7 linked regions of the Homo sapiens genome follow. The protein of the gene in region 5 interacts with the protein of the main gene of each other region in a biochemical or structural test. Each region holds a gene or a part of one and is shown on either strand. Other genes may lie near its edges. The genes, in order: PREX2, MAST4, PPP1R9A, MAST3, CYSLTR2, TJP1 and RGS12.

Region 1 (3,500 bases), on a different chromosome or scaffold from region 5:
ACAATAATCACCTGTTACTACCGACCTCAGACAAAGCATAGTGGGACAATGTAATATTTCAAATCCTTCCCTTTTCTAATATGAGTAGCTTGGAAAAAGCATTTTTTCGCTGGTTGTGTGAGCCTAATTTGGGAGAGTTGTTCTGTATATGGATTGTGTAACACAGATAGCTGGTAAGAAAATTGTGCCTATACAGGATTAACATTGTTTTCAACTATCTGTTTCTGTCACTGGTTTATTGGGTAGTGAATAGGAGTTCTTTTGGCTCTTTTTTCTCTCTTTTCTTTTCATTGTCTATGTTCCAACCTAATTGGACTAATGTTCCTTGCCTACCTCGGAGACAAGGCTTGTGGTTTTTACTCTCTTGGATACCTTCTGTATTAGTTTTGTAGGGCTGCTGTAACAGATTACTACAAACTGGGCAGCTTAAAAAACAGAAATTTATTATCACACAGTTCTGGAGGCCAAAAATCTGAAACCAAGGTGTGGGCTGTGTTGGCTCCTTCTGAAGGCTGTGGAGGAAGGATCCGTGCCAGGCGTGGCTCCTTGACGCGTAAACGGCCATCTTCTCCCTGTGTCTCTGCACGTCATCTTCCCTCCATATGTGTCTTGTGTCCAAAGTTTCCCTTCTTATGAGGACATTTTATAGGGTGGCTTAAGGTCACGCCCTAATGACCTCATTTTAACTTGATTACCTTTGTAAAGACCCTATCTCCAAATAAAGTCACATTCTGAGGTACTAGGGATCACTTTTCAAACATATGAATTTTATTGGGAGACCTAGTTCAACCCAAAATACTTTCCCTCCAAACTCTGTTATTGTCTTCCTACTAGACTTCCAAATGATGTCTCCTCACGTGAACTTCCTTAATTCAAACTACTTTTTGTTCCTTGAATCCATGTATCACCTGATACCTCACTGAGGACTGTCATAACCAGCCACATAAGCTGTGTATACAACTTCAACATATTTTTCATTTATATTAATTGAAAGCAGAAACTATCTTCTTCACTCATTTATTATGCAGTGTTTTGCAATGAAAAGATATTGATTAAATAGTAATCAAAGTTCTCATCAGAGTATAACTAGCTACAAACTAGGAGCTAACATTAAAAATATACTTTTATCAAACACATGGGGGAAAGAGGAAGATTTTACATAATCCTCACCGCAAGCCTCGGTGGCAGGTTCTGATAGGAATTCCATTTTACATATCAGGAAGCTGAAGCCCAGAGGGCTGATATCATTTACCTATGAGACCAGGTGGTCTGGCTTCCCAGTTTGTCTCTTAACCACTCTACTATTCCAATTTCTATGTTTCCAAAAAGGATCTTAATGAACACATAAGAATTATTCTAGAGATTTAATAATAGATCAGACAGATTAACCACTTTTATCACTTCATTTACTTTTCACTTCTAAGCATCCCAACCTGCTCTTTAATAGGAATCTGTAGAGTTTTTCCCAGTGGGAAATTACATGTCTAAAAATACTTTCTTACCTCAAGTTCTAGTTATCAGATAATTAAAATTACCCTGACAGTTTCCCTCTAGGCTAAGATAGAAATTTTAAATGTAAATTTAAAGTTAAGGACGTCCTTTTTACTTATTCTGAGAGGAAAGAAAATACTTTATCTCCTGCACTATTTCTGAAATTTGTCCCTGTTCACACACAAACATATTGAACCTTTCTTTCCTTGGGCATTCATCATTATCAAGCACTTCCCTGTGCTAAAAGCTCTGAGGTGGAGACAGACAAGTTTCCTGTCCTCCCTAAGGAAGCTCAGAGTGTAACCAATAAGTTATGATTTAAGCCACCAGAAAGGGACAGAAATCACAGAACAGTATTTTGTCTCTATTAGCAAGTTATCTAATTACTGGCATGTATCATGAAACAGATTATAAAGAATTTTAAGTTTGGCATGACTCCTAGTTTTATAGCTAACTGCCCTTAAAAAATCATTTAGGATTAGATTATATGATACAAGAAAATTTGAAATATAATTGAATCAAAAATATGCCATCTTTGGCCGGGCGTGGTGGCTCACGCCTGTAATCCCAGCACTTTGGGAGGCCGAGGTGGGCGGATCACAAGGTCAGGAGATGGAGACCATCCTGGCTAACATGGTGAAACCCTGTCTCTACTAAAAATACAAAAAATTAGCCTGGTGTGGTGGCGGGCGCCTGTAGTCCCAGCTACTCGGGAGGCTGAGGCAGGAGAATGGCGTGAACCCTGCAGGCGGAGCTTGCAGTGAGCCGAGATCGCACCACTGCACTCCAGTCTGGGAGACAGAGCGAAACTCCGTCTCCAAAAAAAAAAAAAAAGACAGAAAATATGCCGTCTTTAAAAAGTAAGATAGACTGAGTTGAACAAGTTTATCTTTCTCATAGTTTTCTCTAAAACATACTAATAAATATAACTGATATAAGTTTATGTCATAAGAAATTGCAGGGACACCTGGGCAGATGCACTCTTACAGTAACATGAAACCTGTTGTTTTCAGTGACTGCAACAGCAATAGGAATTCCATCGCCTCCTTCACCAGCATCTGCAGCAGCCAGTGCAGCTCGTATTTCCACAGTGATGAAATGGACTCAGGTGTGTTCGTTGGTGAAGGCCTGTGGGCTTTTTGATATTAGTCCTATAGGAGATAACTTTAAGGTTTTAATTTCGTAGATCCATATGAATTTTTATTTTTACCTTTTATCAGTCACTCTCTGTGGCCACACATACTGCATTTCAGTTTTATGAGCTTGATAGTCTATTTCCCAATCCCATTTTAAAGGGAGTGAGTTAAAAAGCAATGAAATAAGCAAACTAATTGTAATCTTCAGATATGCTCCATTATCTCTGTATGGTTCTATGAAGGATTATAGGTACACAGGAAATATACTGGAAGTATTAGGCATGGTTGATGGGGATGGGCAGGTGTGGAGTTTGAAGCATTTAAGACAGCAGGTTCACCTGAGCTAGCTTTATATGTGGATGTTGAGGATTGAGGGTAATGAGAGAAACAGATTGATATAATTATCTTATAAATATATTATCTTGTGTGTGTTAAGAACAAAGACCTTTCATTCCAATTAGGGAAAATCTTAATTTTTGATTATGCAGTTTATGTCAACTCTTCAACCACTGGAGGAACATCATTTGAAAGAGTCTTTAACAAGTATCTTTTCTGGGAGGCACTCCGCCTTCAGAAGAAATAGTAACATCCCAGGAGCTATGAAATCTTTTGGAACTCTTTCTCTGAACATGAGAACTGTGCATGGAATAACAGCTTGTGTTTAATTTTTACATTTTATTGAATATTACAATATTTTGGTACGTTAAACATAAGATGAGTGATTTTGGTTTTTGGTTTTGTTTTTGTTTTGACATCTAGGTGATGAACTTCCCTTAAGTGTTCGCATATCTCATGATAAACAGGACAAGATACATAGTTGCCTTGAGCATCTTTTCAGCCAGGTACAATCGGGCATTTGTGGGGCTTTTGTTC
Region 2 (3,500 bases), on a different chromosome or scaffold from region 5:
TCAACCTGCTTTCTTTCAGCTGGAACAAGCTTCATGTTTTTTGGGGACCTCACATGACTTTACCTCCCCTCCCCTCTGCTGTTTAGACCAGGAGACTCACTCACCAGATGGGAAGTCAGGGGTGGAGCGGTAGCTTGGTGTTGGAGACCGGGGAGACAAGCTATGAGTGGGGGAACCTGGGAGGCTCTCACCCGATGACAGGGATCTGTTCAAGCAGGAGAAACTTCGGCTGGTGTGGAGTAAAGGAGAAGGCTGCTTGGCTAGCTTTTTGAAAAGAGATCTCCTCCTACAGAAAAACAGGAAAAAATTGTTCAGTCTTCTTTCAGAACTATTGCTGCCTCCCCAAAATACCATTGTGCTCAGCTCAATAACTCCGTGTGAGGGACAGGGATACAACAGCAGATCCTATTAAAGAGCAGAACACCACTTTCCTATTAGAAACCTTCTTATGACATGTAAAGGAAGAGTATTTAATAGTAGACAATGGAGCCTCTCTCAATTCCAAACACTTAAGAAGAGTTGGAAAAATAGGAAAAATATAAAATGCATTAAAAATACATTCATTTACTTGTTAGGTATATGAGGAGGATGCTCTTTGCTTGAAAGCTTCTGAGTACCTACCCCTAAATATGCAGACACAACTTAACTAAGAGATAATACAAAGTAAACCTCTGGAAGCAAAACCATTGTATTGGAAATCAAATTCTTTAATGGTGATAGGCTGGGCAGAGGCCAATGAAGGGCTATTTGCTGTGCTTATTCCATTGTGGGCTCTTGAATATTCCTAACAACAATGCAGGCTGTACAACGACATAGAAAAAACCGAGAAAGGTGAAGCTGAAGCGTATCGTATCAGCAGGGCAGCAGACACTGTACTGCAGCAGAAGCAAATGTGGATTTGGTACTCAATGAGCACATCTTAAGGCAAAAGCACAGCTTCTGACACCTTAGCAGGGCATCGGGCTGTGCAAAGTTCTTTTACCATATAAGCCTATATATGGTAAGATCTAACCCACTCCACATAAGCTTAAAACAAAGTTTCTGGTTGCTAGCCCTTGAAACAATTTGTTCTAAATGATTTAAAGCACAGCCAAAATATAAAGCATAATAATAAAGAAGATCTTATGTGTGTGTAATTTTAATCAGAGTAATAAATGTACTTGGGTGAAAAAGTCAAATACTTCTATAAACATACAATGAAAAACAGCAACTCCTCTACTCGAATTTTTCTCTACTCCCCAAAGAAGTCGCTTTGTATTCTTTTACCTGTTTCTTCTCCCATTTGTCTACATATTGCTAAATGTTTGTACACTGCTATTTTTTAGTTTTTCAGTTTTAGAAATTACCTGTTGATTTTCTACTATGAAAGATGATAATTAAGCTCTTATACAACCACCTTCTACCTTGCAACCAAATATATTTCCCCTTTTCTATTCTTCCCAATATAGCGAAAGCAAAATTTTTGGTTAGAAAAACGGCCGGTATTTTATCTTATATTATAAATATTGTTCACAGCTGGGCCATATGAAACATAATTCTGTTCCTTTCTTGTATAACTTTTTTTCCCCCCAGAGTTAATACATGGCTTTTCGTTTGCTTGTTTTTCTACATTTCTATCATCAAAAATCCTTTTAATATGATGTGACTCATCAGGCCCAATTGAGTAAAGAAATGCTGTGGCATTGCAAAGGAGGCACACCCAGAGAGCTGCCTGGCAAGAAACAGCCCTGCCAGAAACACATACCTCTTGCTAGTGTCTGCAAGCAGCACAAAAAGATACTGATCAGTGCTTCCCAGGCTACAAAAGTATATAAGCTAGTTCGTTTTTCAGTGAGTAAAACAAAGCCCTTTTATTTCTAGGCTTATTCGGAACCTTTAAAGGTAACAGTAATTTTAGAATATCTGGCATTTTAAAAATAGCAACTGTTTGTTTTTTGATAACGTAAAGGACATTTTAAATGTAGATTTAATGTTAAAAACCACCTGAAGATCCAGTTCCTCAATCCAACTCAACTGAAATCAAGTGAAGAGGCTTAAAAAACAGCAAAGGGCTTTTCCTGACATTCACACATGATAAAAAACAATCTGAATCCTTCCACAATGTAAATATGTAAATCCTTTTACTATGGAAGTTGATGCTATTATGAATATGGATTTTAATGTATACATATATGTGAACCATAACATAAAATTTCTCACAGAAAAATAGATCTTCTTCATATATAAGCATTTAATTAAGGGGTAACTTTTCCCCAACATAGGTATACACCAAACTTAAAAAGAATACTGATTTTACTAACCTTTCGAGACTTTCTTTCTTCTTGGATTTCTTGCTCCGCCTCACCATCCGGCTCTTATAGCTGTTTCTCCTGGCTGGTCCAGTTTTGATTGATGTGTTTTCAAATGGGGTAGTAGTGATTGACACCTTATTCCCACTCTAAAGAAAAGATGAGGTGGCATTAAAGGGAAATGCTGTGATGAAGCAAGATCAGAACAGAGATGAGAGATTCATAGACAAATACAAATAGAAAGGAACATACATATAAAAGGCCTTCTGTTTCTAAATAACCCTTCAATCAAAGAAGTCCTGCCAGAATACAAACTGGGTGGAAGGCAAAATATGAAGTTTCTTTACGAGGGTGAGTTCTGGAGTCCACAGATCTGAGTTCAAATCCAAGCACTGTGCCCTTACCAGGCTGCTACCCTCCCTACCCTCAACTTCCTGTACCAATTAACAATATAATCCTACCTATCTCCTGGGGCTCATTTGAGGATCACATGAGAGCAAGTCTGTAAAGCCTTTTGCACCCAGTGCAACACAAGGAAAGAACACTATAAATAAGATAACTACTTCTTCCACAGGTATTAAGTATTAATGTTCCCAGTGGCTGGCTGCTCTTGGTTGATTTTTCTTTTTTCTCCTTTTTGTGTTTTTCCTTTGGCCTAAAAATTGTAGAGTAACAAAACCGAATGAGACTTTTATTTTTAATTATTTTAAAAGGCTCCTTTTCTATCACCATAAAACCTATCAGTTTGCAGAGCTGGAACATTTATGCCAGCCAGTAGGAAACCTCTTTTTAACCAGGTCATACAGGGTAAGGTAATTTCTGTGAGTTTCGGTGTCCTTTCTCTCAATCCTGGGAAGGGGCTTGCTGGGCAGCCTCTAGGGATGGAACTGAGCGTGGAGTCAGCAGTCAGGCCGAGGGGGGCCCAGGGCAGGTGGGTAGTCCCTGGCATCAATTACCCTTCCTGAATTTCATAATAACCAGGGGAGAAACCTGTCCTTTCAAGGTCACAGATGGCCCCGATTACCATGAAAGTACAAGAGGTACAAGGAAAAGGATCTTTTTAAAGGCCCATGCCTGGAAGATACCTAGAGCTCAGCTCAACATGGTACCAAGTGAAGGGGAGTTGGGGGGAGTTAGGTATGGTGGCAGCAGAGGACTGAAAAGACAGGGAATGACTGTCTTAAAGATAGCATCTACCTTCCCCCTTGATTT
Region 3 (3,500 bases), on a different chromosome or scaffold from region 5:
CTAACCTCAGTCTTTTCCTTTGAAGCTTAAACATACTTCCTCTTAAAGAAGCAACAGGGAATGTATTCTTTAAATAAATGATTTTTAGAACTTTTACATTCTTTTCCTGGCTGTCACTTTATTCTGTACTAGGTTAAAAATTCCTAGCACCTTTAGTTTTTTGTTATAGATCTTATTTATCATCTTTGTATGTGTAATATTGTCCTCAGTGACTACTTCAGTTCTTTTTATAGATGTTTTACATAGATATTTCCATAAGATGTCTTAAATCTGGACTTAGAAAAACATCAGAATAATAGTTGATCTTTCCTGTGTAGCATATACCTTGTACTTGTACATATACCTTGATTTTTAAAAATGGTCAGACTGTATTGCCAGCCATCAGTTAGTATGACTTTCCTATCTTTCACAGACAGTTATTTCTTATTAGATAGATTGTTATGTTTCATAGGGTCATGAAATATTAGAATGGGATTAATAATAGCAAATTAAAATCCAACTTTGAGATATGGCATGGGAGAATGTTATGGACCATGCTAATTCGAGATGGAATTATGCCTTCATTTTCAGGAATTTTTCAAAATGAAAGGATTGAATTAAAGTAAATTTGTCTTAGATGAATCAAAACAAGAGAGGGTGACATGTCATTTTTTTCTACTAATTCAGAACATTTATGGAGCCCCTAATATGTGTCAGGGACAATGCAAATATAACAAATACAACAAATACATAAAATGAGGAGCTGATGAAGTAAGGAGCTGCTGGTCGGTGGGACGTGTACAGCCCATTAAGGAAGCTCTCAGGCTGTTCCCAACTCTGTGCTTTGATGATCTTTCTAAGGTTGCTGCAGCCTCATTAAGGAAGTCACAACCTTTCTCTGTTTCTTATGTCCTTTGGATTGGTATTTTTTTTTCCCCTCAAATACTATTGTGTTACAATGGATTGTTATTCTTGAAACAGCATATCTGAAAAAGATTTTTCTAACTCACAGTAAGAAGGATATTGCAGAGTTAATATTGAGGTACATTGTGCTATATTTTGTGTTTTCTCAAATCATATGGAGCTTTACAGGATTAGAATTCAAATAATCAGCAAGGGCACCAGAGCTTCTTCAAACCTTACATGATAGTTGTTGAAAATGGATCTTCTTGTATTCTCTCCCTTTTTGGGGGCTCCGAGTCATAGTTAGGGCATTCATGGATATATGAAGTTTTTTTGTTCAGGATGGTTTTCAGGGAATAGTTCTGTTGAGATCCAACTTTTTGTCTTTGCGGAGGCTTCCTTTATAACAGTTTTGTCAGTGCTTCTTAAACTTTAATATGCATATGAATCACTTGGGAGATCTTGTTAGCATCAAGATTCTGATTCAGTAGGTATTCTATGGGAAATTACCTTGATACAATGGTTGAGCTACAAGTACACCAGCAGGCAAGCTATCTCAGAGGTTATGGAATAGAAGACTCAGAAAACAAATTAAAATGCTTGAATCACATGATTTACCAAACCAGTTAAACACAAATCCAGAAGCAAGAGGAAAGCTATGGAGTAAGTTAACACACTTCAGGTTCAAACCAGGTTGGAAGGACCACGCTACCTGTCCTGGATAAACAATGTTCCTATGTCCCATCTTTCTTTCACATAACCCTTCCCCATTAATGATGTGGTTATGAGGACCAGAGCTGATGTTTGAGCCAAGACTCCATAGACTAATGATTTCCTGGGTCGATGATACACACTTGTTCTGTTGAAGAGATGTGACAAATACACTTAGGTACAGCCGTAGCTTTGCTAGTTTGCCTGCTGATGAGCCATGGGACCATCCTTGGTGTCTTCAGTAGATGACTGATATGGAAGTAATGTAGCTATCAGTCCAGGCATAATGGTGACTTGGTATTTCCACTGCTTTTTGTCTATAAGTAAATCTCATTCATTTTATCATAATTTCTATTTATTTTATTGTTGTCATGTCTTACTCCCAGCTTACCTATTTATTACGCATCTGCTGACTGCCTTCATTTCACCAGCTTGCATTCTCATTATCAATACTTGGCCCAGCCTGAGTGTTGCCTCTGTCTCATAAGTTGTTAGTTTATTTACCATCTATGATTATCACTTCTTAAGTGTTTCATCCATCCCATTAGTTTTGTTTACCTCTATAATAGAATTTCATATTCTGAAATAATACAGGAAAACCACGTTAACAGTATGTCTGGAGGGGAACCTTAGATTTTACATTTCTAACAAGCTCTCAAGTGGTGCCGATGCCGCTGATCAAGAGATCACTCTTTGGAATATGAATTTGAAGTACAATCTTCTGGCTTCTGAAAGTGGCTGGCCATAGCATGTTAGGGAAGCAACATGTAATAAATTTCCTTTCCAGATGGGCTGCTATATCTGGTTGGGTGGAATAATATTCTCTGAAGATGAAATAAGGTATAATCTTGTAAAGTGCATGAATACTCTGTTTCTGGATCCCAAAGTGGATTATTATCCTTAACTCAAGGCATTTGGGTCATTAAAAAGTCACATCCTAGGCTCTTTGTGTGGTTTAAGTTTTTAGTTATAAAAAGTTGGGAGGAAGAAGTTTTTAATGGAATCAGAAATTTCATTTCTTTCATTCTTTTGCAAGTGTAAATTAATAAACTTAGTATAAGAATGGTCATATGATTTAACTTGCTTTTCTTGGATAACTTTGATGGTACAACTTTTTTTTTGTTTGTTTTTTGTTTTTTGTTTTTTGAGAGGGAGCTTTGCTCTGTCACCCAGGTTGGAGTGCAGTGGCACGATCTCAGCTCACTGAAACCTCCACCTCCTGGGTTCAAGAGATTCTCAGGCCTCAGCCCTCTGAGTAGCTGGGACAACAGGCATGCACAACTATTCCAGACTAATTTTTATATTTTTAGTAGAGACAGGGTTTTTACCATGTTGGCCAGGCTAGTCTCGAACTCCTGACCTCAAGTGATCTGACCGCGTTGGCCTCCCAAAGTGCTGAGATTATAGGCGTGAACCACTGTGCCCAGCCGATGGTATAACATTTAAATTGGATTTCCTTTTAAATTTTTATGTTTTATGACCTATGCTTCATAACCAGGTAAATGAAATATGTCAAATATTTTAATATACTTTGTAAAATCAAATAATGAAGATTTGTTGAATGAACCCCTTTTCTAAAATCCAGAGGTATAGCTATACTTTTAAACTGAACAGTGATCATTTAGTGTTTAAAAAGGGATTCTTTTGACAGCAGATTATTTCAGATGTTTACTGGTATTTATTTGTAATAGAAATATTTAAAGTTTCTTGTTTTTTGTTAATTTAATTAATTTTTTTTGAGACAAGGTCTTGCTCTGTCACCCTGGCTGTAGTGCAGTGATGCAGTCATGGCTCACTGCAGCCCTGACCTCTGGGGCACAAGTAATTCTCCTGCCTCAGCCTCCCATGCAGCTAGGACTACAGGCAAGCGCCACCATGCCTGTTATTATTTTTTTTTTTTTTGTAGA
Region 4 (3,500 bases), on a different chromosome or scaffold from region 5:
TAATGGTCCAGGAGCACCCCAGCCAATCAGGGGGTAGATCGCTGATGCGAGCCAATCAGATTTCCTGGAGGCCAAAGGCCAAAGAGTCCATTCACAAACGGGTGCTGACCGGCCAATCCAGACGCATAGCCCAGGGCGTCCTCTCCGGTGGTGACAATGTGAGGCGTGCTGTTGGCTGTGTGCAGGAAAGGTCTGAAAAAGGATCCGGCCTGGCCCGCGGGCGGCCAGTTTGCGACAGCCCTGGGTCCAGGGAGGAGGTGGAGACCTTCCCAATTTGGGTTAAACTCAGCCTCACGCATAACGTGTGCAGGCACCGGGTAACGTGAGCTGTTATTACTACTACTACTATTATCTTATTACATTTATCATCTCCTACTTGGACCTTTGCTTTACACATGACCGAATTTCAAAACACCAGGTCCCACAAACAGAGCATCCCCCGGCAGAGAAGGGCTAGAGCCTGTATCTGGACTTTTGTCTCTGCCGCTACTGGGGTGGCTCCTCTAGGTTCAGCCCTCCAAGGTGATCCTGCTTTCTCATGGACAGCTTCCACTTATTTTCCTCCTCCTCCTCCTCCTCCTCCTTCTCCTTCTCCTCCTCCTCCTCCTCCTCCTGGAAGCCCTGGGGCTGGTGCCATGTGGTCCATGCTGACTTCTCTCCCATTTAATTCCAGGGGCATCGAACTTCCAACCGGGCTTGGTGCCCAGCAGGCTGAGTCTCACCTCCCTTTGCACGTGCTGTTTGCTGGGCATGGACTGGTGTTTTCCATGTGCCTGCAGGCTTTGTTTGACACCCCCTACTCCAGGAAGCCCCTTAGCTCTCCTCTCTGTGTGCCTCCAACCCCTCTTCTCCCTTTGAGTCTCTCTTTTTTTAGACAGGATCTTGCCCTGTCGCCCAGGCTGGAGTGCGGTGGCCCAGGCTGGAGTGCAGTGGCGCCATCTTGGCTCACTGCAGGCTCCGTCACCTGGATACAAGCGATTCTCACAGCCTCAGCCTCCTGAGTAGCTGGATTACAGGCGAGCGCCACCACACCCGACTAATATAATTTTTATATTTTTTAGTAGAGATGGTGTTTCACCATGTTGGCCAGAATGGCCTCAAACTCTTTTTTTTTTTTTTTTTTTTTTTGAGACGGAGTCTTGCTCTGTCGCCCAGGCTGGAGTGCAGTGGCGTGATCTCCGCTCATTCCACCTCCCAGGTTCATGCCATTCTCCTGCCTCAGCCTCCCGAGTAGCTGGGACTACAGGCTCCTGCCACCACACCCGGCTAATTTTTTGTATTTTTAGCAGAGACGGGCTTTCACCGTGTTAGCCAGGATGGTCTCCATCTGCTGACTTCGTGATCCTCCCACCTCGGCCTCTCAAAGTGCTGAGATTACAGGTGTTAGCCACTGCGCCTGGCCTTTTTTTTTTGAAACGGAGTTTCACTCTTTCGCTCTTCTTGCCCAGGCTGGAGTGCAATGGCACGATCTCGGCTCACCGCAACCTCTGCCCCCGAGTTCAAGCGATTCTCCTGCCTCAGCCTCCCAGGTAGCTGGGATTACAGGCATGCGCCACCACATCCTGCTAATTTTGTATTTTTAGTAGAGACGGGGTTTCTCCATGTTGGTCAGGCTGGTCTCGAACTCCTGACCTCAGGTGATCTGCCTGCCTCAGCCTCCCAAAGTCCTGGGATTACAGGCATGAGCCACTGCGCCCGGCCACCTTTTTTTTTTTTTTTTTTGAGACGGAGTCTCATTCTGTCACCCAGGCTGGAGTACAATGGTGTGGTCTTGGCTCACTGCAACCTCCGCCTCCGGGGTTCAAGGGATTCTCCTGCCTCGGCCTACCGAGTAGCTGGGACTACAGGCGCCTGCCACCACATCCAGCTAATTTTTGTATTTTAAGTAGAGACGGGGTTTCACTATGTTGGCCAGGCTGATCTTGAACTCCTGACCTTGTGATCCGCCCACCTTGGCCTCCCAGCGTGCTGGGATTACAGGCGTGAGCCACCGCACCTGGCTCAAACTCTTGATCTTAAGTGATCCTCCCGCCTCAGCCTCCCAAAGTGCTGGGATTACAGGCATGAGCCACAGCACCCAGCTGCTTCGGGTCTCTCTTAATCCCTCCAGTATGGGGGTGCTCCTGCTGTGCTATGTCTTCTCCAAAATGGGATTTCCTCAAGGTGGGGCTAAAGCTTGTTGGGGAGGCAGCATCCCCCAGCCTGGGCAAGCGCAGACGGGTATACCATAAATATTACCTTTAAAGGGCAGTTTCAGGGGGTCGGGGCCTCCCCAACCTCCACTCCTCTGGGTGGGAACCACTCCCAGGGGAACAGCAGGCACAGAGGGAGCTGTGGGTGGAAAGCAGATGGTGCGGGGACCGAAGGGTCCGGGAGTGGTGCCAGGAGAGTTCTGTGTGGTCCAGCTTCCCCGGGAGCCTTTGCAGGGAGCTGCCGATTTTGCCTCACCTCTCTCTGCCACTTTAAAAAAACATCTTCAGGCCAGGCACAGTGGCTCATGCCTGTAATCCAGCGTTTTGGGAGGCCGAGATGGGAGGACTGCTTGAGGTCAGGAGGTCAAGACCAGCCAGACCAACATGGTGAAATCCTATCTCTACTAAAAATACAAAATCAGCCAAGCGTGGTGGTGGGCGCCTGTAATCCCAGCTTACTTGGGAGGCTGAGGCAGAAGAATCGCTTGAACCCAGGAGGTGGAGGTTGCAGTGAGACAAGATCGCACCATTGCCCTCCAGCCTGGGCGACAGAGCAAGTCTCCATCTGAAAACAAACAAACAAACAAAATATTCACATCTTTTTGTCTTTTGGAAGCAACTTTCAACTGGTGGTTATTATTCACGTCTTGATCATTGTCTTGACTCCCATCCATCCAAGTCTCCCCCAGCACCAGGCTCTGAGCTTGCTACTCATTGATTCCTCCAGGGACCCTATGTCACTGGGCCATTTTCCAAATGAGAAAACTGAGGCACAGAGGGGTTAAGTCACTTGTCGGGTCACACAGTGCAGGAGTGGGGGAGCCAGACTGGGAACCTAGGACTGTCAGAGTTTTGGAAGGAAATGCCTGGATGGGGTGCAAGTGGGACCCCCCACCAGGGTTCAAATCCCTCCCTGTTTCACGTGGGGTAGTGGAGGAAGTGGTATAAGATCCCACAACTGGCTGGGTGCAGTGGCTCATGCCTGTAATCCCAGCACTTTGGGAGGCCAAGGCAGGTGGATCACTTGAGACCAGGAGTTCAAGACCAGCCTGGGCAACATGGTGAAACCTCATCTCTATAAAAAATACAAAAATTAGCCGGGTGTGGTGGCACATGCCCACAATCCCAGCTACTCTGGAGGCGGAGGTTGCAGTGAGCCAAGATTGCACCACTGCATTCCAGTCTGGGCGACATAGCCAGACGCTGTCTCAAAAAAAAAAAAAAAAAAAAAAAAAAAAAAAAAAAAAAAATTCCCACAACTATTGGAAGGGGAAGAAGGAGACCCTAATGGCCACGGTGATGGTGGTG
Region 5 (2,899 bases):
ATTCCTTTCTGTTTAGAGAACTTCCTTTAGTCATTCTTTGTTTGTTTGTTTTTTGTTTTGTTTTGTTGTTGTTTTTTTTTTTTTTGAGATGGAGTTTCGCTCTTGTTGCCCCAGCTGGAGTGCAATGGCATGATCTCGGCTCATTGCAACTTCTGCCTCCCAGGTTCAGGCAATTCTCCTGCCTCAGCCTCCCGGGTAGCAGAGGTGACAGGTGCCTGCCACTGGGCCCGCTAATTTTTGTATTTTTAGTAGAGACGGAGTTTCACCATGTTGGCCAGACTGGTCTTGAACTCCTGACCTCAGGTGATCTGCCAGCCTCAGCTTCCCAAACTGCTGGGATTACGGGCGTGAGCCACCAAACCCAGCCTAGTCATTCTTTTAAGATAGGTCTGCTGGCAGCAAAGTCTTAGTTTTCCGTCTGAAAAAGTCTTGATTTTTCTCTTTGTACTTGAAGGATATTTTTGCTGGACATAGAATACTAGTTTGGCAGGTCTTTTCTTTCAGCATTTGAGAAATGTGCCATTTCTTTCTGTCCTCCATAGTTTCTGATGAGAAATCTGCTATTCAGTAGTTTTAGGCTGCAATATCATAGTAAGGTATTCATGTCAACAGGGTCAGTAGGTCACAAGTTCTCTAAGTTTGAAGCGTCAGCTTCAACCAAACAAATTAATGGCTATTCTACATTCAAAAATCAGGAAATTTAAATTTATTATGAAATGTAATGCAGCATGTAGTAAAGACTTAACCAGTGTTTTAAAACTCAACTTTCAAAGAAAAGATAGTATTGCTCCCTGTTTCATTAAAACCTAGAGAGATGTAATCAGTAAGCAAGAAGGAAAAAGGGAAATTCACAAAGTAACTTTTTGTGTCTGTTTCTTTTTAACCCAGCATGGAGAGAAAATTTATGTCCTTGCAACCATCCATCTCCGTATCAGAAATGGAACCAAATGGCACCTTCAGCAATAACAACAGCAGGAACTGCACAATTGAAAACTTCAAGAGAGAATTTTTCCCAATTGTATATCTGATAATATTTTTCTGGGGAGTCTTGGGAAATGGGTTGTCCATATATGTTTTCCTGCAGCCTTATAAGAAGTCCACATCTGTGAACGTTTTCATGCTAAATCTGGCCATTTCAGATCTCCTGTTCATAAGCACGCTTCCCTTCAGGGCTGACTATTATCTTAGAGGCTCCAATTGGATATTTGGAGACCTGGCCTGCAGGATTATGTCTTATTCCTTGTATGTCAACATGTACAGCAGTATTTATTTCCTGACCGTGCTGAGTGTTGTGCGTTTCCTGGCAATGGTTCACCCCTTTCGGCTTCTGCATGTCACCAGCATCAGGAGTGCCTGGATCCTCTGTGGGATCATATGGATCCTTATCATGGCTTCCTCAATAATGCTCCTGGACAGTGGCTCTGAGCAGAACGGCAGTGTCACATCATGCTTAGAGCTGAATCTCTATAAAATTGCTAAGCTGCAGACCATGAACTATATTGCCTTGGTGGTGGGCTGCCTGCTGCCATTTTTCACACTCAGCATCTGTTATCTGCTGATCATTCGGGTTCTGTTAAAAGTGGAGGTCCCAGAATCGGGGCTGCGGGTTTCTCACAGGAAGGCACTGACCACCATCATCATCACCTTGATCATCTTCTTCTTGTGTTTCCTGCCCTATCACACACTGAGGACCGTCCACTTGACGACATGGAAAGTGGGTTTATGCAAAGACAGACTGCATAAAGCTTTGGTTATCACACTGGCCTTGGCAGCAGCCAATGCCTGCTTCAATCCTCTGCTCTATTACTTTGCTGGGGAGAATTTTAAGGACAGACTAAAGTCTGCACTCAGAAAAGGCCATCCACAGAAGGCAAAGACAAAGTGTGTTTTCCCTGTTAGTGTGTGGTTGAGAAAGGAAACAAGAGTATAAGGAGCTCTTAGATGAGACCTGTTCTTGTATCCTTGTGTCCATCTTCATTCACTCATAGTCTCCAAATGACTTTGTATTTACATCACTCCCAACAAATGTTGATTCTTAATATTTAGTTGACCATTACTTTTGTTAATAAGACCTACTTCAAAAATTTTATTCAGTGTATTTTCAGTTGTTGAGTCTTAATGAGGGATACAGGAGGAAAAATCCCTACTAGAGTCCTGTGGGCTGAAATATCAGACTGGGAAAAAATGCAAAGCACATTGGATCCTACTTTTCTTCAGATATTGAACCAGATCTCTGGCCCATCAGGCTTTCTAAATTCTTCAAAAGAGCCACAACTTCCCCAGCTTCTCCAGCTCCCCTGTCCTCTTCAATCCCTTGAGATATAGCCAACTAACGACGCTACTGGAAGCCCCAGAGCAGAAAAGAAGCACATCCTAAGATTCAGGGAAAGACTAACTGTGAAAAGGAAGGCTGTCCTATAACAAAGCAGCATCAAGTCCCAAGTAAGGACAGTGAGAGAAAAGGGGGAGAAGGATTGGAGCAAAAGAGAACTGGCAATAAGTAGGGGAAGGAAGAATTTCATTTTGCATTGGGAGAGAGGTTCTAACACACTGAAGGCAACCCTATTTCTACTGTTTCTCTCTTGCCAGGGTATTAGGAAGGACAGGAAAAGTAGGAGGAGGATCTGGGGCATTGCCCTAGGAAATGAAAGAATTGTGTATAGAATGGAAGGGGGATCATCAAGGACATGTATCTCAAATTTTCTTTGAGATGCAGGTTAGTTGACCTTGCTGCAGTTCTCCTTCCCATTAATTCATTGGGATGGAAGCCAAAAATAAAAGAGGTGCCTCTGAGGATTAGGGTTGAGCACTCAAGGGAAAGATGGAGTAGAGGGCAAATAGCAAAAGTTGTTGCACTCCTGAAATTCTATTAACATTTCCGCAGAAGATGAGTAGGGAG
Region 6 (3,500 bases), on a different chromosome or scaffold from region 5:
GGGCTGTAACGCAGTATATGTAGTACTGCTTCCCGTTTGATTTGAAGGAAAAAAAGTACAGTAGTTCCACTCCCTTTTTCCCCTCCAATCCTGGAAACAAGGTCTGGCTCTGACTTTTACTTGCTCTTTAATCTCTTTTCTGTTTAGAGACCAAATGTAAACTCTGTACAGTTCTAAGAATAAAACTGTGTATAAATATGATAGATCACCATGCTGCTAAGGAAAATGTCTTTAAAAATAATAGTTTTGGTGGAAAATTTGAAGACGTAATCCTGTTACTTGACATACCCCTGATATGATAAAAATTCACCTTACTGAAAGACCATGAGTCCAGCTGTAAATTCATGTGTAGTGCCACCCATCTGTGACTGCTCAGTCATTGCTCATTTCAGGCCTGCCTGAAAGCATTCACGTGCTCAGCATTGTGTATGACTGAGCATTATAGTAGCTGAAGACAAGCTAGTGGAATGAGCCAGTCATTTCTAATTAGCAAAGTTTTGATATGTTAAATAAAAAGATAGTTTATGTCTAGAATGATCCTCCTGGAATATTTGACTGGAACTTGCTTTGCACCTCTGAATTTTGAAAGCAAATCTTGAAAAACCTTTTTACTTTAACAACTTTTAGTCTTGTAGAAAGAAATAGACATTAGGATAGTTTACAGATTTTAAAGTTAATCCTATAAAATTGGTGTGTTGCAGTATTTCTTGCATAAGCCAGCAATAAAAATAAGACTTTTGCTCTCTCTGACCTAGAGTGCATCTTTATTTATTTATTGCAGAGAAGAGTGGCTTCAGGTTGCTCCTTTATGGGCTAGCCAGGTGCTTTATTTCCATTCCTCTTAAACAGATAAATTCTTAATAATGAGCAGTATGTGGGGAATACGTGGGTAGGGAGTTTTATCTTATATCCTAAGCATGGATGAAAATAAATGGACTCTGAATGATTGCCTTTACCACAAGAACACAGCTTTAGATCATGAGAACACCAATGTTACCAAACTTTGTACTGTAAAACACCATTTGAAATGTGATAACAAAACCCTGTCATATATGTAGTGCTCAATACTGAATCTCAGGTGGCCCTCACTTTGGGATAGATCAAGAGATAAGGTTTTATTAGTTTGTGTTGCGGATATATTTCAGTTGATATACTGAAAATACTGGGAAGTGAGTTAACTGGTGAATGATCTCAATTCTAGTTTATCATGTCCGGAAAGGAGGTAAAACAGAAGCTGATATTACTTTCTGTGGATTCTAATTAGGAACATAAGATTAGCGTATACCTGGTTTAATTAATTTTTTTTGACTTACCGAAATATTTTTTCCTTTTTAAAAAAATGTAAATTCCCAAAGACTGAAAAGTTCATTTTTCTTCTTGGTTATCTTAGGAATTTTCACGCTTTTGGAATTGTCATTATCTTGGAGATTGTACAACAGTTTCTGGTAACTGAATATCACCAGTTAAACTTAATATAAGATTAGCTCACTTAATTTAGTATGTAATTTTAAAATTCAGGAGGATACCAGTAATGACTAATTCTTTTTGTTAGCTTAACACATATTAAATGAGTACATTTTGTTTGGGATCCCGATCCTAGAAATTTACAGTTTTCAACTGCTATACGCTGTAATGATCACTTTGTGAATTGTGTAACTCATTGTTGAAGAAACAAAGGATTTGCATTGTTTACTCTTAAAAATACGAGCAAACTTATGGTCATCCTGTAATAACAGAGCATTCTTGTGTGCTTTCTTCGTTGGAGGAGGTGACAAAGTCATTTTCTAAACCTGGGCTTGCTGTTTAGCAGAGTTTCTGTATTTTTCCTTGTTAATGTTTTTAAATGTTTGAATTGAATCTGGATACATTGATGTAAGTGTTTTCTGCATATGTTTGGTATCAATATCTCAATAGGAGGGAGACATTAAGAATTATAAAGTAATTGGCTTATATGCTTAACAGCTCCTTGAATATACTGACAAGGCAAATGAACACTATACTAGCTGTTACTGTTACATTTAGGGTTCAAGAAGCTGTGAAATATGTAACAATTTGGATTCCTAAAGCGGAATTTTACATTCAGCAGATATTTGTTGGTTACCTCGTGTGTACCAATCACTGTTGTAGGTGCTGGAGATGCAGCAGTGAACACATCTCTGTACTGATAGGGCATTTTAATGGTGCGGGTAGAGAGCAGCAAATAAAATTCTGTCCATAATGATAAGTGCTAGAATCCCTAACATGCCTTTTCTGGGTCATATCCTCCCTTCTTCAAAGATTGCATGTATCTTGTCTTCTAGGTTTCTCATTTTCTAGTTTTTCTTTATAGTTACCACCTAATTATGCATTCTGAAAGCACTAGTTTTGACTCTCTGAACTTTGCGCATACAGAATCTTCTAGTGTGAATTCTGTTGTATATGGCTTCTTTTGCTCAGCATTATGTTTGTAAGATTATGTTGTGGAGAACTGTAGCTCATTAGTTTTCATTCAGTTCTTGTACTTCATGGTATTCCATTGTATGAGGACTTTATTGGTTTCGGGAGAAAATAGTTTCAGTTAGACTTCTGTGGCTTTTTGGAGAAAAATATTGTATATGTCTGTCTGAGGGGCAAGAATTAGATATGCATTATGAGGCAGTCATTGGAGTACCAACAGCTGAGCAAAAGGTAGTAAGCTTCTTTTGGTGTTCCTATGATTATCTTGAAAAATCAAGTTGGTCTTAGTTTGGAGGATATTTTATGACTAAGATGTTTGTCATACTAAAGTATGTTTTAGTAGTAAGTATTGAAGTATGTTTTAGTAGTAAGATATCCACTTACCTGACTGATCAGACCACCAAAAGCCACAATCAGGGGAAATACATGAATCTGGCAAAAATGAGTCTGCCTTTCAAAATATAATTGTGGAAGTTTTTCCTGGTAATGTCATATAAAGGTACTAAGGAAGGTTTATTTACTGATTTTTTTTTTCTAACAGTGGCAGTTATTGGAGTATTAATACTTACTGGAGTGTTAATACAGAAGTACACTATTTTGATGCTGTATCACCTATAAAAATCAAGTCAGTAGCCATGGCAAGTAGGCTTACATTTTAGTTATAAGTGTGAGAAATATGTGTCAAAACAAACAGTAGCCCCTTATATTGCATGCTGACTCTGTGACAGATACTGAGCTAAGTGTTTTATGTGCATTATCCCATTTAATCTTCACAATTCTGTTAGATACTACGATTATCTCTGTTTTTACAGGTGAAGGATCTGAGGTTAAATTTACTTGCCATAGGTAATCATACATCTACTTACATGTTCTATAAGTCATACATTCACATCCTTTTATGTTCGTGTGTTGTAAGAGAGCACCAGGGAGAAGAGTATGGGATGGTGTTAGGTAAGTCTTAGACCAGAAAAGCAGCATGAATCATGAAAGCCAGAAGAGAGGGCACTGCTCCATCAGAGCACAAGCCAGTTTGTCTAAAGGAAGCAGCTCTTGCTCAGCCCCAG
Region 7 (2,197 bases), on a different chromosome or scaffold from region 5:
CTGGCATGGACATGACTGTCTCAGGGCCTCAGCCCCAGGCTCACTGAGGAAGGGAGCTCCTGGACCCCTGCCTAGGAGACACGCTAGGTACGCAGGAACCTGCCCCCGAAGCCTGCTCCTCTGGGTCGGCAACGTCACCCCCACCGCACAGATGGGGGGGTGGGGTCACTGGGCGGGTCGGCAACGTCACCCCCACCGTACAGATGGGGGGGTGGGGTCAGTGGGCGGGAAGGGCTGGGCTCTCCCAGCACGGGGGCTTCACTGCCCCTTCCCAGGCCCTGGGGTCCTGCCATGGAGCTCCGGGCGGCACATGAACCCAGCCATTCTGCGTGCACCGTTCACTTTCCTTGGCCCCAGCCTTCGTTGGCCCCTGGGGACTCCACCCTGGCATAGACACAACTGTGTCTTCCAGGGGTCCACGTGGAGGTCACCAGATGTGGCAGGGCAGTGACGCCCTGGGTAGGGAGGCCTCCCGGGGGTGCTGGCAAGGAGATGGCCTGCCCATGTTGGGTCTAGAAGCTTCCAAGGCCGGTTCAGGCAGCCGGGATCTCCTGGGGCTGGAGTGGGCATTGGAGCCAGAAGTGGGGCAAGAGTCACTGACCAGCCGGAAAGAGGGGCCTCAGTAGGGGGGCCAGGGATGGAGGGGGAGGGGACACGACCGGGAGGCCCAGAGCAGGGTGTGTACGGTGAAGACGGTGCTGAGGCAGCGAGGCAGGTGGGCGAGCAGGTGGCCAGCCTGGCAGGGTGGGATGGGGCAGCAGACACAGGGCTCAGGGCCCGTTCCACCAGGCCAAGAGGGTCCAGCCTATCTGGAACTGAACCCTAGTGCTCAGCCCCCTGGGGGTGGCCCTTGAGGATGGGCCCTGGGCCTGGGGGGGCCCCTGAGGACGCCCCCAGGAGGAATTAGGGGGGCAGTTGGGGCGGGGGCTCTGCCGGGGGCCCAGCTCTGTTCCTGAGCTGCAGTGGGGAAGCAGGGTGGTAGGGTTTCTGAGTGGGTCGGCTCCCCCACTTGGTGGCAGGTGTTATGTGGAGGGCTCTGGGAACACTGCACCTCCCCTGGGCGTACCTGCCCCAGCCTGGAGGCCCACAGCGGGACGCCAGCTGCCTCTGGGATGTGTTTGGGATATTTCAGGGACCCCTACCATGCTGTCTGTGCAGGGGCCTTCGGGGTAGGGGGTGGGTTCCGGGGGCCCAGGGCCGGGCCAGGCAAGTGACAGCTTCTCTTCTCCTTGTGACAGGAAGTGGGACCCATGGCAGCCGAGACCTCCCAGTCAACAGAATCATCGATGTGGATCTTGTAACTGGCTCGGCGCCCGGGCGGGATGGTGGCATAGCGGGGGCACAGGCTGGCCCTGGGAGGTCGCAGGCCAGTGGTGGGCCTCCTACATCAGACCTCCCTGGCTTGGGCCCCGTCCCGGGTGAGCCTGCTAAGCCCAAGACCAGCGCTCACCACGCCACCTTCGTCTGAGCTGCCCTGGCCTGGCCAACTCTCCTGTGGACATGTCGGGGTGGGGCAGCCCAGGTGGATTCTGTGGGCCTCAGGGGGGCCACCCTGGCCACCACACCCTCAGGAGCCCAGCCAGGAGGGCAGGGGGTGACCTCGCTGGAGGCACTGGCCCCGGACATTCGCCATGCTGGCCATGGGGCTCCCTGGCCCTGGCCTCCTGCTGCCCAATAAAGCATTTCTGAGGACCCAAGCGTCGGCCTGGTGCTGGGTGCTGGGGACACAGACTCCTCGTTCTCGGGGACTCCGAGCACATCCCCAGGAGGTCATGCAGGAAACAGAGGGGCCTGAGGAGGAGAAGTGCCCCAGGGTAAGGTCAAGGGGGCTTTGAGGAGAGGGAAGCTTGGCTCCTGGGGCCTGAGGGCCAGGACCAGATGGCAGAGACTGGCTCTCGCCGTCACGTGGGGACCCTGCCCCAGCCTTGTTTAGCAGGGTGGTCTGAGGGCCTTTCTGGGGAGGGACCATGTAAACTGCAACTGGACGGCAGAGGAAGTCTAGAAAGAGCCCTGGGCCTGTGCCAAGGCCCTGGGGCTAAGGAGGGTCTGATTACAGAAAGGGAACCAGGTGTGGCTGCAGGGGAGGCCGGGGCCTTGGGGGCTGGGTTGAGTCGGAAGAGGCAGGGCCATTCCCCAGGTTGCCTTGATGGAACCCCTAAAGCCAAGTACCCTCGGTACAGGGTGGTTGGTGAGCTCC

Evidence for each region.
Region 1: the proteins of CYSLTR2 (region 5) and PREX2 interact in a test that uses a peptide from one of them, tested with the Homo sapiens proteins (one large-scale study listed by IntAct).
Region 2: the proteins of CYSLTR2 (region 5) and MAST4 interact in a test that uses a peptide from one of them, tested with the Homo sapiens proteins (one large-scale study listed by IntAct).
Region 3: the proteins of CYSLTR2 (region 5) and PPP1R9A interact in a test that uses a peptide from one of them, tested with the Homo sapiens proteins (one large-scale study listed by IntAct).
Region 4: the proteins of CYSLTR2 (region 5) and MAST3 interact in a test that uses a peptide from one of them, tested with the Homo sapiens proteins (one large-scale study listed by IntAct).
Region 6: the proteins of CYSLTR2 (region 5) and TJP1 interact in a test that uses a peptide from one of them, tested with the Homo sapiens proteins (one large-scale study listed by IntAct).
Region 7: the proteins of CYSLTR2 (region 5) and RGS12 interact in a test that uses a peptide from one of them, tested with the Homo sapiens proteins (one large-scale study listed by IntAct).

Annotation. Positions count from the first base shown.
Region 1 is NC_000008.11:68,116,046-68,119,545, forward strand, and holds part of PREX2 (phosphatidylinositol 3,4,5-trisphosphate-dependent Rac exchanger 2 protein), read left to right. Parts: intron 1-2,504; coding exon 2,505-2,599; intron 2,600-3,386; coding exon 3,387-3,469; intron 3,470-3,500. UniProt on the Homo sapiens protein: Functions as a RAC1 guanine nucleotide exchange factor (GEF), activating Rac proteins by exchanging bound GDP for free GTP.
Region 2 is NC_000005.10:67,159,393-67,162,892, reverse strand, and holds part of MAST4 (microtubule-associated serine/threonine-protein kinase 4), read right to left. Parts: intron 2,438-3,500; coding exon 2,301-2,437; intron 287-2,300; coding exon 105-286; intron 1-104.
Region 3 is NC_000007.14:94,914,094-94,917,593, forward strand, and holds part of PPP1R9A (neurabin-1), read left to right. Parts: intron 1-3,500. UniProt on the Homo sapiens protein: Binds to actin filaments (F-actin) and shows cross-linking activity. Binds along the sides of the F-actin. May be involved in neurite formation. Inhibits protein phosphatase 1-alpha activity.
Region 4 is NC_000019.10:18,100,778-18,104,277, forward strand, and holds part of MAST3 (microtubule-associated serine/threonine-protein kinase 3), read left to right. Parts: intron 1-3,500.
Region 5 is NC_000013.11:48,705,929-48,708,827, forward strand, and holds part of CYSLTR2 (cysteinyl leukotriene receptor 2), read left to right. Parts: intron 1-888; 5' UTR 889-889; coding exon 890-1,930; 3' UTR 1,931-2,899. UniProt on the Homo sapiens protein: Receptor for cysteinyl leukotrienes. The response is mediated via a G-protein that activates a phosphatidylinositol-calcium second messenger system.
Region 6 is NC_000015.10:29,812,469-29,815,968, reverse strand, and holds part of TJP1 (tight junction protein 1), read left to right. Parts: intron 1-3,500. UniProt on the Homo sapiens protein: TJP1, TJP2, and TJP3 are closely related scaffolding proteins that link tight junction (TJ) transmembrane proteins such as claudins, junctional adhesion molecules, and occludin to the actin cytoskeleton.
Region 7 is NC_000004.12:3,438,217-3,440,413, forward strand, and holds the end of RGS12 (regulator of G-protein signaling 12), read left to right. Parts: intron 1-1,238; coding exon 1,239-1,468; 3' UTR 1,469-1,697; downstream 1,698-2,197. UniProt on the Homo sapiens protein: Regulates G protein-coupled receptor signaling cascades. Inhibits signal transduction by increasing the GTPase activity of G protein alpha subunits, thereby driving them into their inactive GDP-bound form.